Homo sapiens: one gene and its partner. The protein of the gene in region 2 purifies or fractionates together with the protein of the main gene of each other region. This does not show direct contact. Each region holds a gene or a part of one and is shown on either strand. Other genes may lie near its edges.

The links. The genes of interacting proteins can lie anywhere in the genome.
Region 1: the proteins of SYCE3 (region 2) and MAP3K15 purify together in Homo sapiens (affinity purification with mass spectrometry; 2 studies listed by BioGRID and IntAct, with this or other methods). This does not show direct contact.

What each region holds. Positions count from the first base shown.
Region 1 is NC_000023.11:19,512,500-19,519,992, reverse strand, and holds the start of MAP3K15 (mitogen-activated protein kinase kinase kinase 15), read left to right. Parts: upstream 1-4,484; 5' UTR 4,485-4,731; coding exon 4,732-5,092; intron 5,093-7,493. UniProt on the Homo sapiens protein: Serine/threonine kinase which acts as a component of the MAP kinase signal transduction pathway. Once activated, acts as an upstream activator of the p38 MAPK signal transduction cascade through the phosphorylation and activation of several MAP kinase kinases.
Region 2 is NC_000022.11:50,552,904-50,559,924, reverse strand, and holds part of SYCE3 (synaptonemal complex central element protein 3), read left to right. Parts: intron 1-3,519; coding exon 3,520-3,628; intron 3,629-7,021. UniProt on the Homo sapiens protein: Major component of the transverse central element of synaptonemal complexes (SCS), formed between homologous chromosomes during meiotic prophase.

The sequences.
Region 1 (7,493 bases), on a different chromosome or scaffold from region 2:
GTGGGTGTGGCCAGGCACAGTACCTCACAACTGTAATCCCGGCACTATGGGAGGCGGAGGTGGGAGGATTGCTTGAGCCCGAGAGTTTGAGACCAGCCTGGCCAACATGGCAAGAACCCATCTCTACAGAAACAATTAGCCAGGTATGGTGGCATACACCTGTGACCCCAGGTACTTGGGAGGCTGAGGCGGGAGGATTGCTTGAGCCCAGACCAGAAGGTCAAGGCTGCAGTAAGCCATGATCACACCACTGCACTCCAGCCTGGGCAACAGAGCAAGGCCCTGTCTGAAAAAAAAAAAAAAAATAGTGGGTAGCACTCACAAAGGGATTTCCTCTAAATATATGGAAGAGGTCAGGCATGGTGGCTCATGTCTGTAATCCCAACACTTTGAGAGGCCAAGGCAGGAGGATTGCTTGAGCCCAGGATTTGGAGACCAGTCTGTGCAACATAGTGAGACATCATCTCTACAAAAAAAATAAAAAAATGTGGTAGGAGGATTGTTTGAGCACAGGAGGTTGAGGCTGCAATGAGCTGTGATCGCGCCACTGCACTCCTGCCTGGGTGACAAAGCAAGACCCTGCCTCAAAAAAAAAAAAAAAAAAAAAAAATTAAATATATGGAAGAACTTTCCATGATACCTCTACATTAGGACAAAGTTGTTTCCAGGGCATGTACTTAATAAGGGGCAAGGCAAAGGTAAGAACAAGACAGTTGTTCAATTAAACAGAAGAAACGAATCCAGCATTTTGCAATTTTCTTCTCAGTGGGGCTGGGGGGAGGTAGGAAGGACATTGGGGGAAGGGGCCAGGGCATGCTTCAGGTGTGCAAATTGCTACACACAATGAGAAGGTGGGCTGTGTGTCCCAACTTCAGGGAAGGTGCTCGTTAGCTGGGTAAATGCTGCGCTCTCAGCATTTACTCAGCAGGGTTTGTATTTAGAGGAAGCTCTTATTCAAGCCAGAATTCACAGCTCCCGTGGGTCTCACTCCATCAGCAGGGCCCCAGTGAGAGCTGAGAGGAATTCGGGAAGATTGTGATGGGGACAACAGCAAGATGCTGGCAAGGGATTTTAAGTGGGCATCTTTGCCCTTCTGAAGGCTGTGGCAGTCCCTGGAATAATTCCAGATGAACAGGCATATTAGGAAAATTACTATTATTATGCATTACAACGTTACAAAGAATACATGTGTCCTTTTATAGCATCATACAAAAAATGTCTTAGAACAAGGTGTGGAGAGTTTTTCTGAGCTTTCCTGCTTCCCAGCCTGGTCTGTGTGTTCTCACAGATTTCCTCAGAACCCATTTTCCATTCGTTGACCACAGACGAGGATGCACATGGAAGCTGCTTGTGATTTCCGCCAGGGCTGGAACGAGGGCAGGATTTCTTCATGGATTTATACAGATAGTTTCTGCTTTCTTTGGGGGTGGGAGGTGGACTGTATTAGTACTGAAGCATGCAAAGAAGCTGAAATGTTTTATAAGTCCTATCCTGCACGTGTCAAAATGGCTTGTGATGTGCTGCCAAGGACACCCTCAAGAAAGTAAAAAGACAGCTCACAGAATGGAAGAAGATATTTGCAAATCACATATCTGATAAGGAACTTCTATCCACAATATGTAGAGGATTCTTACAACTCAATAATAAAAAGACAAATACTCAATTAAAAAATGGGCAAAGGATTTGAATAGACATCACTCAGAAGTTGTTATACAAATGGCCAATAATTAACACATGACAAGATGCCCAGTGTCATTATCCATCAGGGAAATAGAAATCAAAACCATCATGAAGTACAATTTCACACCTGCTAGGATGGTCATAATCCAAAAACAATAACAAGTGTTGGTGAAGATGCAGGGAAATTGGAACACTGCTGGTTGGTGAGAATGGAAAACGGTGCAGCCACTTTGGAAAACCGTGGAAATTTCTCCAAAGGTTAAACACAGAGGTAAGCCTGGTGTGGTGGCTCACACTTGTAATCCCAGTGCTTTGGGAGGCCGAGGTAGGAGCCAGGAGTTCGAGACCAGCTTGAACAAGATAGTGAGACCCCATCTCTATAAAAACGTTTTCTAAAAAAAACTGTAGAGTTAGCATGTGACCCAGAAATCCTGCTCCGGTATATGCTCAAAAACCTATGTCCACACATTGCATGATTCCATTTGTATGAAATGTCCAGAATAGGCAAATCTACAGAGATGGTAGACTTATGGTTACCTAGAGCTGGGGATGTTGGGAAGGAGGGAGAGTGGTTTCTAATGGGTACTGATTGATTTTTGCACTGGGGCGTGGGGTGATGAAAATGTTGTATAACTCATTATGGCCATAGCTGCACAACGCTGTGGATATACTAAAAACTTTCATTGAATCGTACCCTCTAAATGGGTGAATTGTATGGTATGTGAATGATAGCTCAATAAAGCTGTTATTAAAAAAGAGAAAACCTTTGGGTATAAGCCCAGTAACGGGATTGCTGGGTGGAATGTTATTTCCATTATAAGGTCTTTGAGGAATTGCCACACTGTCTTCCACAATGGTTGAACTAATTTCCACTCCCACTAACAGTGTATAAATGTTTCTTTTCCTCCACAGCCTCGCCACCATCTGTTATTTTTTGACTTTTTAATAATAGCCATTCTGACTGGTGTGAGATGGTATCTAGTTGTGGTTTTGATTTGCATTTCTCTAATGATCAGTGATGTTGAGGCTTTTCTTTCATATGATTGTTGGCCACATGTATGTCTTCTTTTGAAGAGTGTCTGTTCATGTCCTTTGCCCACTTTTTAATGGGGCTGTTTGTTGTTTTCTTGTAAATTTAAGTTATTTATAGATGCTGGATATTAGACCTTTGTCAGATGCATAGTTTGCAAAAATTTTCTCCCATTCTGTAGGTTGTTTGTTCACTCTGTTGACACATACATGTGTATGTTCATTGCAGCACTATTCACAATAGCCAAGACATGAAATCAATCTAAATGCTCATCAATGGTAGATTGAATAAAGAAAATGTGGTACATACACACCATGGAATACTATGCAGCCATAAAAAAGAATGAGATCATGTCCTTTGCAGGAACATGGATGGAGCTGGAGGCCATTATTCTTAGCAAACAAATGCAGAAACAGAAAACCAAATGCCCCATGTTCTTACTCATAAGTGGGAGCTAAATGATGAGAACACATGGACACATGGAGGGGAACAACACACACTGTGGCCTATCAGAGGGTGAAGGGTGGGAGGAAGGAGAGGATCAGGAAAAATAACTAATGGGTACTAGCCTTAATGCCTGGGTGATGAAATAATCTATACAACACACCCCAATGACACAAGTTTACCTGTGTAACAAACCTGCACATATACCCCTGAACTTAAATGAAAAACAACAGATTGTATTCCATAAATATATACAATTATTTGTCAATTAAAAATAAAGTTTAAAAATAATATTGCAATTGAAAAAAGAAAAACCTCCAAGTCTGTGACAGCGTCCGGTGCATTCTATCTTTTAGAAAACAATGACCCAGGTGCGGTGGCTCACGCCTGTAATCCTAGCACTTGGAGAGGCTGAGGCGGGCGGGTCGCTTGAACTCGGGAATTCGACAGCAGCCTGGCCAACATAGTGAAACCCCGTCTCTACTAAAAATACAAAAAAAAAAAAAAAAAAAAAAAAATTAGCCGGACATGGTGAGGTGCGTGCCTGTAATCCCAGCTACTCTGAAGGCTGAGGTGGGAGGATCGCTTGAGCCCCGAGAAGCAGAGGTTGTAGTGAGCCTAGAGCAGAGATCGCGCCACTGCACTCCAGCCTGGGCGATAGCGACAGACTTTGTCTCAAAAAAGATAAAAAATAAGAATAATGGTATTACCCTCAGTGGTAACACTATTTTCTTTTAATATTTGTGTCCAAATTCGTGAAGTGCCTAAGATCCGAGTGAGGGCCCCTTTGAGTTCACGGCATTTTCAAAGGTCAGGCAGGCAGCGTACTTGGAGTCTATCTTCCAGACAAAATTTGTTGCTGGTGCCTCCCTGTGCCTTGTCAAGGTCACGGCGAAAGCCAGGACGAGCTCGCCTCCGGCACAGGGCTCACGGGGGGCCGTGCGCTTGGCAACCAGGGATGAAGCATCCGTTCATCCCAATGCCGGGTGAAAACTATTAATACGTCTGTATTGAGTTGGGAATAGAACATTTCCATCCAACCGATGCTTTGAAAGAGTTTTTACCCTGCTCGAATGCTTCAAGTTGTTTTGAGAAAAAAGAAATTGGAGCTCCTAATGGTGGTCAGGCTAGAGGGATGGCCAAAACAAAAAACAAAAAACAAAACAAAAAAAAAAACAACCCCAATTCCTGTTCCCGTGTTCGGCGTCTCCCGGCTGCGGGCGGGCGCTGCCTGGAGGGGGCAGCAGGGGGCACCCTCCCCGCTCCTGCCCCGCCGCCCTCCCCGGCCCCCTCCCCGCCCCTCGCTCGCCCTGACGTCCCCAGCCCCCGCCTCTTTCTCTCCGGCCTTCAAAGGGCGCTGGGGGCCTTGGGGCCTGAGCGTCAGGCTGCAGCCTAGGGGTACTGCCGTCTTCGGCCCGCCGCGGGGTCCCCGGTGCGCTCCGTTCCCTCGATTCCCGTAGCGTCCCGCGCTTCAGGAGCAGGTGCCGGGACCGCCTGCGCGGCTGCTGTAACTTGTGCCTCCTAGCGGATCGCAGCCGCTGGCCACTCGCCCAGGGGAAGGGCGCGCAGGCGGGCACATGGAGAGCGGCGGTGGGAATGCTCCGGCCGGGGCCCTCGGGGCGGCGAGCGAGTCCCCTCAGTGCCCGCCGCCGCCGGGGGTGGAGGGCGCGGCCGGGCCGGCGGAGCCCGACGGGGCGGCGGAGGGCGCGGCAGGCGGCAGCGGCGAGGGCGAGAGTGGGGGCGGGCCGCGGCGGGCTCTGCGGGCAGTATACGTGCGCAGTGAGAGCTCCCAGGGCGGCGCGGCCGGCGGCCCGGAGGCTGGGGCGCGGCAGTGCCTGCTGCGGGCCTGCGAGGCCGAGGGCGCTCACCTCACCTCCGTGCCCTTCGGGGAGCTGGACTTCGGGGAGACGGCCGTGCTCGACGCCTTCTACGACGCAGGTGAGAGCGGCTTCGTCCCCACCTCAGTCCCAGTTCACCTACCCTCACACGAGCCAGGGCACCCGCCCCGCCCCCTCGCCCTTCTCCCCCGTCCCCCTCCCCCTCGTCCCCCTCCCCTCCCCCTCGTCCCCCTCCCCTCCCCCTCGTCCCCCTCCCCTCCCCCTAGTCCCCCTCCCCTCCCCCAGTCCCCCTCGTCTCTAGTCCCCCTCCCCTTATCCCCCTCCCCTTATCCCCCTCCCCCAGTCCCCCCTCCCGCAGGCCCCCCTCCCCTTAGTCCCCTCTCCCCTTAGTCTCCCTCCCCTTAGTCCACCTCCCCTTCCCCTAGTCCCCTTCCTCTCATCCCCCTCCCCTTAGCCCCCCTCCTATCCTCTCACCCCCTGATCCGTCCAACAGGACCGTCCTGCCTTTGGGGGAGGGTAGAGTCTTTAACATTGTGCCCTTTTACAGATAAGAAAATAGAGGCCACGGGCATTTAGACTCTTTGATTCTTCAGGCATCTTAAACATCAGATAACCCAAGAAACAGCCTGTAACCCAGACCCTACCAAGCCCCCCTTCTCCCAAGTTATCCAACTTTTGCTTTCTCATTCCTGGAAGGTCTCTTACGGCCGTGGGTCCCAACGCAGGCTACATATTAGAATCACCTGGGGAGCTTTTAAAACTCTGGGTGCCCAGATCGGACCCCAGACCAATGACATAAGCACCCGAGGCCTTAGAAGTGTCATGCTTCCCAGGCGATTCCATTTTGCAGCCAGGAGTGGAAATCGGTGTCTTACGTGTGTGTGTGTTGCCTCTACTTAGAAATACCCAGTGTTCTTTTGCACACTTCAATTCTCGTCCCCAAAACACTGACGGTGGAGTGTGAGCCACCACCCTGTGACGTATATTTTATCCCATAATGCACAGCATTCACGGGTTAGGGGGCACCTTTGCTGGAGTGGGACTCTAGGTCTCTAAACTCACTATAATAAATGTGCCTGAGAATCCAGCCTTAAGAAGCGTACTTTGGATTGGCAAGAGTTTCTCTCGGTGTGGAATGAATTGTTGCTTGACGTTTTTTCCCTTACAGCACCTTTGGTGACAAACCTCTGTCACCTGGGTGACGTTCAGAAGCATTATATGTGAGACAGTAATTACCTGGGAGTCCTTGTGCCTCAGTTTCTGGTCAAAGGGAGTTAACAGTGCCTACCCTAAACCTAAAAGCTGATGAGATAGGATATGGGAAGTTGCTTTGCTGTAATAGTAAGCTAGGATGATTAGGATTCAGCCTCTGCTGGAGGCAGCGCAGATCTGTTTTTCTTGCAGAGCAAATTCTCCCCAGCTGGAAGGGCGGGGTAGGGGGGGAGTCAGGCTTGTTTAAACAAGTGGCAGCTGGACCCATTGAAAGCACTCTCCTGACATTTCTGACCACACTGAGTATACTCTTCAGCACAACATCTTTTTAGAAAAGTCGTTCAGGAGTCCACTTCACCTAGAACCACTCCGTTTTCTCAACTTGTATTCATTCTGCTCCAAAATTGGAGTTTGAACAGACTCTTCTCTGAACGGTTAAATGTTCCTTTTGCCATGAGGCACAACACTCTCCTTCCTGCTGGTGCCACCTCTGAAAGATTTGTGTGCGGTGGCTTTTGCTTTCCCTGGGGCGGAGTGTGTGTGTACGGGGGGCCCTTCTAACAGGTCGACTGTGAAGATGCAGACGTCAAATCTCAGGCTTTCAATTCTGGAGCCACACAACAGACACGTCACCTTGGCTCACTCTGGCCTGGGTGGCCTAGAATGTTGGGCTGTACCACGAGCTCCCTTTGGTTAACCTTGTCCTGGTCTTGAGTAAATCATTTCTCAGTGCATTAGAATTGCTTTCAGAGGTTTGAGAAAGTACATACACAGTAAGTGGGTTCCTGGGCTAAACAGATGAGCACCTCCACTGTCTCCTGGATTCGTCCTCCATCACTCACTGCTTTTTGATGTTTCCACCAAAAAAGATACAGAGCTCTCACTTTGGCTTCTTTGTAAAAATTCTAAAACCACTCTGTCCAATTTGGTAGCCACTAGCCACAGGTGGCTCTTGACAGTTAAACTGATTAGAATACGGTAAAAATGGTAAGATCCTTAGTTGCACTAGTGGCATTTAAGGCGCTTGATAGGCCAGGTGCAGTGGCTCACGCCTGTAATCCCAGCCCTTTGGAAGGCCAAGGCGGGAGGATTGCTTGAGTACAGGAGTTCAAGACCAACCTGAGCAAAAAAAAAAAAAAAAAAAAAGCAGGATGTGGTGGCACCCATGTGCCTGTGGTCCCAGCTACCTGGGAGGTGGAGGCAGGAGGATCACTTAAGCCCGGGAGGTCGATGCTGCGGTGACCTGTGTTTATGCCACTGCACTCCAGCCTGGGTGACAGATCGAGACC
Region 2 (7,021 bases):
ACAGAGTGTTGCTCTGTCACCCAGGCTGGAGTGCAGTGGCATGATCTCGGCTCACTGCAACCTCCACCTTCTGGGTTCAAGGGATTCTTCTGCCTCAGCCTCCTGAGTAGCTGGGACTACAGGCGCCCGTCACCATGCCCAGCTAATTTTTGTATTTTTAGTAGAGATGGGGTTTTGCCATATTGGCCAGGCGGGTCTCGAACTCCTGACCTTGTGATCCCCCGCCTCTGCCTTCCAAAGTGCTGGGATTACAGGCATGACCGACTAAGCCTGGCGGCTACCTCCACTTCTAACACTCTGGTCCAAGCCTCATCATTCCTTACCTGGAGTTTTGCAGCTGCCTCCTAAATGATGTCCCTGTTCCATGCTTTCCACCCCTTAGTCTATTCTCAACACAGAAGCCAGAGTGATCCTTTTAAGTCATTATTCAAATCACATCACCTTTGTCAGATTTTTCCAGTGTTTCCTCATCTCATTCAGAATAAAAATCGAAGTTCTGGCCAGGCATAGTGGCTCACACCTGTAATCCCAGGACTTGGGAGGCCGAAGCAGGCGGATCACCTGAGGTTCAGGAGTTTGAGACCAGCCTGGCCAATATGGCGAAACCCCGTCTCTACTAAAAATACAAAAATTATCTGGGCATGGTGGCGGGCACCTGTAATCCCAGCTACTTGGAAGGCTGAGGCAGGAGAATTGCTTGAACCTGGGAGGCGGAGGTTGTGGTGAGCCGATATGACGCCACTGCACTCCAGCCTGGGCAACAGAGTGAGACTCCGTCTCAAGAAAAAAAAAAAAAGAGTGTGTAGTGAGAAGAGAAGGGGCTAAAAGGACCTTCCTTGACCCATTAGAGCCAGTAAAGGAGAGAGCCAAGAAAGAGCAGGGAAGGAACTACCACAGGTGGACAGAGTTTGGAGAGAACAAGGTTAAAACATCAAGAGAAGAGAATTTTGAGCAGGAGAAAATGGCCAAATGTCAGTGCTGCAGAGATGTTAAATAAAAGAAAGACAGAAAGTGCCCTGGGTGTGCCAGTTATGACTTTGGTGAGAGCATTGTCAGTGAATGTCAGAGACAGATGCCAGATGACAGTGGAGTGAGGAGGACAGACAAACGTGTGAGGCCTGGCTGCTAAAGGAAGGAGAGGGAATAGCTATAGGAGAGGGTTAAGGAAGGTGTTCTGGACATTTCTTCCTCCCATCACCCACTATTAGCCCCCTGCCCTGCCACCTGCCTGTACCTCCCCACTTACTCTTAGCAAACTATTCCTACTTACCAAAAAGCAGGACGGAGTCCCTGCACGTGGAATGGCTCCATGCCCACAGAAGTACCTCCTTTACAGATCCCGAAAGACCATACACCCTGACCCTGCACCCTCATTCTCAGATCTGCCTGTCAGGCCTCCTGGAGGGCCCTTTGCTCCTCCCTCAGAATCTCTACCCTTAACAGGGAGGACGGCAAGAGGGGAAAGATAATAATTTTCTTTCTTTTTTTTTTTTGAGATGAAGTTTCGCTCTTGTCACCCAGACTGGAGTGCAATGGCACAATCTCGGCTCACTGCAACCTCCACCTCCCGGGTTCAAGCGATTCTCCTGCCTCAGCCTCCCCAGTAATCCCAGTAGCTGGGATTAGGCACCTGCCGCCACACCCGGCTAATTTTTATATTTTTAGTAGAGACTGGGTTTCACCATGTTGGCCAGGCTGGTCCCAAACTCCTGACCTCAGGTGATCCACCCACCTCGGCCTCCCAAAGTGTTGGGATTACAGGCATGAGCCTCCGCGCTTGGCCACGATCATGATTTTCTTTCAGAATTAGAGCTTTACAATGGTCAACTCCTTTATTCAGCCAACATTTATTAAGCACTTGCTGTTTTCCTAGCTCTGAGCTGAACACTAGGAATAGTTCATTGGAAAGATGGCCTCTGCTTTCCAGGACCCCACAGTCTAGTTGGGGAGGTAGAGGAATCCACAATCACAATACCAGCTAAGAGGCACCGTGATGAGGGAGGCCCAGGAAGTCACAGGAGAACTGAGTGGAGGCCCTTAACTCTGAAGTAAAGACCAGGAAGGCTTTCCCCACATGTACAGTGGGAACAATACCGCAGCATCTGTGGCCCATCCCTCCCTGTTTTATGCTTACCTGGCTCATTCCTTCACCTTCATGAGGTTACAAGTTCCCTGGCAGCTCTTACATTATTTATCTATTTCTCTCTTTTCTTACTAGTGCCTTGTAGATAAATAGGTGAGCATCAAATATTAACAGAATGAATTAATGTATATTAATAAAGGTGAGGAGAGGATCTGGAGTGATGTAATTACTGTTCAACATTTTAAATAACAACGGATATGATTTATTAAGTGCTCATTACGGTAGGTACTGTGCTGAACAGTATATAATTTATTTCAATTAATCCTCACAAAACTCCACAAGATATAGGTAATACTAATAATTCCCGTTTAAAAAATACAAAACTTGGCTGGGTGTGGTGGCTCACATCTGTAATCTCAGCACTTTGGGAGGCCGAGGTGGATAGATCACCTGAGGTCAGGAGTTTGAGACCAGCCTGGCCAACATGGAGAAACCCCATCTCTACTAAAAATACAAAATTAGCCGGGCGTGGTGGCACTTGCCTGTAATCCCAGCTACTCAGGAGGCTGAGGCAGGAGAATCACTTGAACCCAGGAAGCAGAGGTTGTGGTGAGCCGAGATCGTGCCACTGTGCTCCAGCCTGGGCAACAAGAGCAAAACTTCGTCTCAAAAAAAAAAAAAAAACTCAAAAAAATTACCAAAAATTTGTCGAGAAGATGTGTAAGTTGCCAAAAGTAACACTGCTGATATGAGGTAGCGCCAAGATTTGAACCCAGGCAGCTCAATTCCAGAACCAGGACAGTCTCTATGGGGCACTGCCTCTAATGCCCAGGAGAATTCTTCTGGAAAGTTAAGTTGATTATAATTTTTTTTAATGTATGAATCATTTCATATTTTAAAATTAAACGTACCCGCCTCCAGGCTCCCATCGCTTGATGTCTGTAATTATTACATTAACTGCTTCGACATCTGTCACATCCTGGTTTGTCATATGGTGTGTGTGACTTACTCCCATATTGCACTAGAAATTCCTTAGGTACAGGAATTGTATCTTTGAAACACATCAGCACAATAGCTTGCATCTTAGTGGGTACTCAATATGGTTTTGCAAGAAAAAATTCCATGTCACCATTATGACAGACTTTTTTCATTATAATGAAGATGTTTTCTGTGTTAATGACTCCAGCCTTCAGCTACGTTTGTATGGCAAAGATGGAAGAAAGGGGAAGGACAACTTATATGTGCCGAATGCTATGCTGGGGCCTTTAGACATGTTCCCATTTAACCTTCACAACAGCCCTGTGGAGTACGTGGTATTGTCTGAATCTGAGAGATGGGGAAAGAATTCCTTAGAGAAATCACTGAGTTATAACCAGTGGAGCTGGATTTGAAATGTAGGTCTGTCTGACTGCAGCTTCTTTCTGTGCATTGCCTAGATGGATGATGCTGACCCTGAGGAAAGAAACTATGACAACATGCTGAAAATGCTGTCAGATCTGAATAAGGACTTGGAAAAGCTATTAGAAGAGATGGAGAAAATCTCAGGTAGGATGTGTGAACCCAAAAGTATCTGAGACAGGTCTCAATCAATTTAGAAAGTTTATTTTGCCAAGGTTAAAGATGCACCTGTGACACAGCCTCAGGAGGTCCTCAGGACATATGTTCAAGGTTGGCAGGGTACAGCTTGCTTTTATACATTTTAGGGAGAGAGAATACATCAGTCAGTACCTGTAAGATGTACACTGGTTCGGCCGGGCGCGGTGGCTCACTCCTGTAATCCCAGCACTTTGGGAGGCCGAGACGGGTGGATCACGAGGTCAGGAGATCGAGACCATCCTGGCTAACACAGTAAAACCTCGTCTCTACTAAAAATACAAAAAATTAGCTGGGTGTGGTGGCAGGCACCTGTAGTCCCAGCTACTCGGGAGGCTGAGGCAGGAGAATGGCATGAACCCGGGAGGTGGAGCTTGCAGTGAGCCGAGATGGTGCCACTGCACTCCAGCCTGGGCGACAGAGTGAGACTCTGTCTCAAAAAAAAAAAAAAAAAAGATGTACATTGGTTCGATCTGGAAAGGTGGGACAACTCAAAGGGGGATGATTCCAGGTTATAGATAGATTTAAATTTTTTCTGATTGGCAATTGGTTGAAAGAGTTATGGTCTAAAGACCTGGAATCAATAGAAAGGAATGTCTGGGTTATGACGGTAAGGGGTTGTGGAGACCAGAGTTTTATCATGCAGATGAAGCCTCCGGGTAGCAGGCTTCAGAGGGAATAGATTGTAAAAAGCTTTCTTATCAAACTTAAGGTCTGTGTTCATGTTAATGCTAGTCACCTTTTCCTGAATTCCAAAAGAGAGGCAGGTATAACGAGGCATACCCAATTTCTCCTTCTCCTCACGGCTTGAACCAACTTTGGCCAAGCAATACACCCACCTTGGCCTCCCAAAGTGTTGGGATTACAGGTATGAGCCAGCGTGCCTGGCCAAATAGCTTTTATTCACTAGAGCAGACTTTAGAAAATTTCTCCTTAGAAATGTTTGCAATTTTTTGCCTATGTACTTTTGAACTATGAATAGCTGAGACACGTATCAGTTAATTTAGAGAGTTTATTTTGCCAAGTTTGGGGACACTTATCTGTGACACAGCCTCAGGGGGTCCTAATGACATGTGCCCAAGGTGGTCAGAGCACAGCTTGGTTTTATTTATTTATTTATTTATTTTAAGACAGAGTCTCGCTCTGTCGCCCAGGCTGGAGTACAGTGGCGTGATCTCGGCTCACTGCAAGCTCCGCCTCCCGGGTTCATGCCATTCTCCTGCCTCAGCCTCCCGAGTAGCTGGGACTACAGGCGCCCGCCACCACGCCTGGCTAATTTTTTGTATTTTTAGTAGAGACGGGGTTTCACTGTGTTAGCCAGGATGGTCTTGATCTCCTGACCTCGTGATCCGCCCGTCTCGGCCTCCCAAAGTGCTGGGATTACAGGCGTAAACCACCGCGCCTGGCCTTGTATTTTTAATAGAGACAGGGTTTCACCATGTTGGCCAGGATAGTCTTGATCTCCTGACCTTGTGATCTGCCCGCCTCAGCCTCCCAAAGTCCTGGGATTACAGGTGTGAGCCACCGCGCCTGGCCTTTTTTTTTTTTTTTTTTTGAGACGGAGTCTTGCTCTGTCGTCCAGGCTTGAATGCAATGATGTGATCTCAGCTCACTGCAACCTCCGCCTCTCGGGTTCAAGTGATTCCCCTGCCTCAGCCTCCTGGGTAGGTGGGATTACAGGCGCCTGCCACCATGCCCAGCTAATTTTTGTATTTTTAGTAGAGACGAAGTTTCACCATTTTGGCCAGGCTGGTCTCAAACTCCTAACCTCAGGTGATCCACCTGCCTTGGCCTCCTGAAGTGCTGGGATTACACGCGTGAGCCACCACGCCCAGCCAGCAAACAGTTTTATGTAGTGAAAAATCTATCAATATTTTCCTTTCTGATTTATTGCCATTATTTTGACACCTAGAAAGTCTTTCCTCAATCTGAGATCAGTGAAATATTTAGTTGTATTTTCTTCTACTTTTCTCCGTATTCCTTTTTAACATTTAATCCTAACCCATCTGGCATGCCAAATGACCTACGCTGCGTATTGCTTTTTTTTTTTTTTTGAGACAGAGTCGCGCTCTGTTGCCCAGGCTGGAGTGCAGTGGCACAATCTCGGCTCACTGCAAGCTCTGCCTCCCGGGTTCACGCCATTCTCCTGCCTCAGCCTCCCGAGTAGCTGGGACTACAGGTGCCCGCCACCATGCATGGCTAATTTTTTTTGTATTTTTAGTAGAGATGGAGTTTCCCCGTGTTAGCCAGGATGGTCTCAATCTCTTGACCTCATAATCTGCCTGCCTTGGCCTCCCGAAGTGCTGGGATTACAGGAATGAGCCACCGCACCCAGCCGCATATTGCATTTTTATATAAATCTGCTACAGGCTGGGCACGGTGGCTCACACCTGTAAACCCAGCACTTTGGGAAGCCGAGGCAGGAGGATCACAAGGTCAGGAGTTTGAGACCAGCCTGGGCAATATGGTGAAACTCCATCTCTAATAAAAATACAAAAATTAGCTGGGCGTGTTGGTGGATGCCTGGAATCCCAGCTACTCAGGAGGCTGAGGCAGGAGAATCACTTGAACCCAGGAGACGGAACTTGCAGTGAGCCGAGATCATACCATTGCACTGCAGCCTGGGTGACGGAGCGAGACTCTCTCTTCTGTGATAGTCCCTGGGCATAGAGGGAGGGTGTTTGTATCGTTTTAGCAGCAGGGCATTTGCAGTGTAACAGATCCGGGCCCAGTGCGATGCCAAATGAGGGAGATTCATATCTTTGGTCATCTGCAGAATACCATGATTTTAGTTTCCTTGGAAGCAAAATGAGGGGAGATAAGTTTGACAATTATAAGAGTAATTTGTGCATTAGAACAGAAAAAGGAACCTATTCCATTAGGGCACCAACGAAAAATATGAGGAAAAGTTACAATCTGGTCCTCTCTAGAGGATTATTGTAGCCAAGAAACAATGATTTAATTTGCACTCAAAAAAACGTTATGGCTGGGCGCAGTGGCCTGTAATCCCAGCACTTTGGGATTTTATTTATTTATTTATTTATTTTGAGACAGGGTCATACTCTGTCACCCAAACTGGAGTGCAGTAGTGCAATCTTGGCTCACTGCAACCTCCACCTCCCAGGCTCAAGGGATCCTTTTTTTCATCTCAGCCTCCTGAGTAGTTGCAACTACAGGTGCACACCACCATGCCCAGCTAAATTTTGTATTTTCTGTAAAGACAGGGTTTCAACATGTTGCCCAGTCTGATCTCAAACTTCTGAGCTCAAGTGATCCACCCACCTCAGCCTCCCAAAGTGCTGGGATTATAGGTACCAGCCACCTTGCCCGGCCAGCCACCTTCTT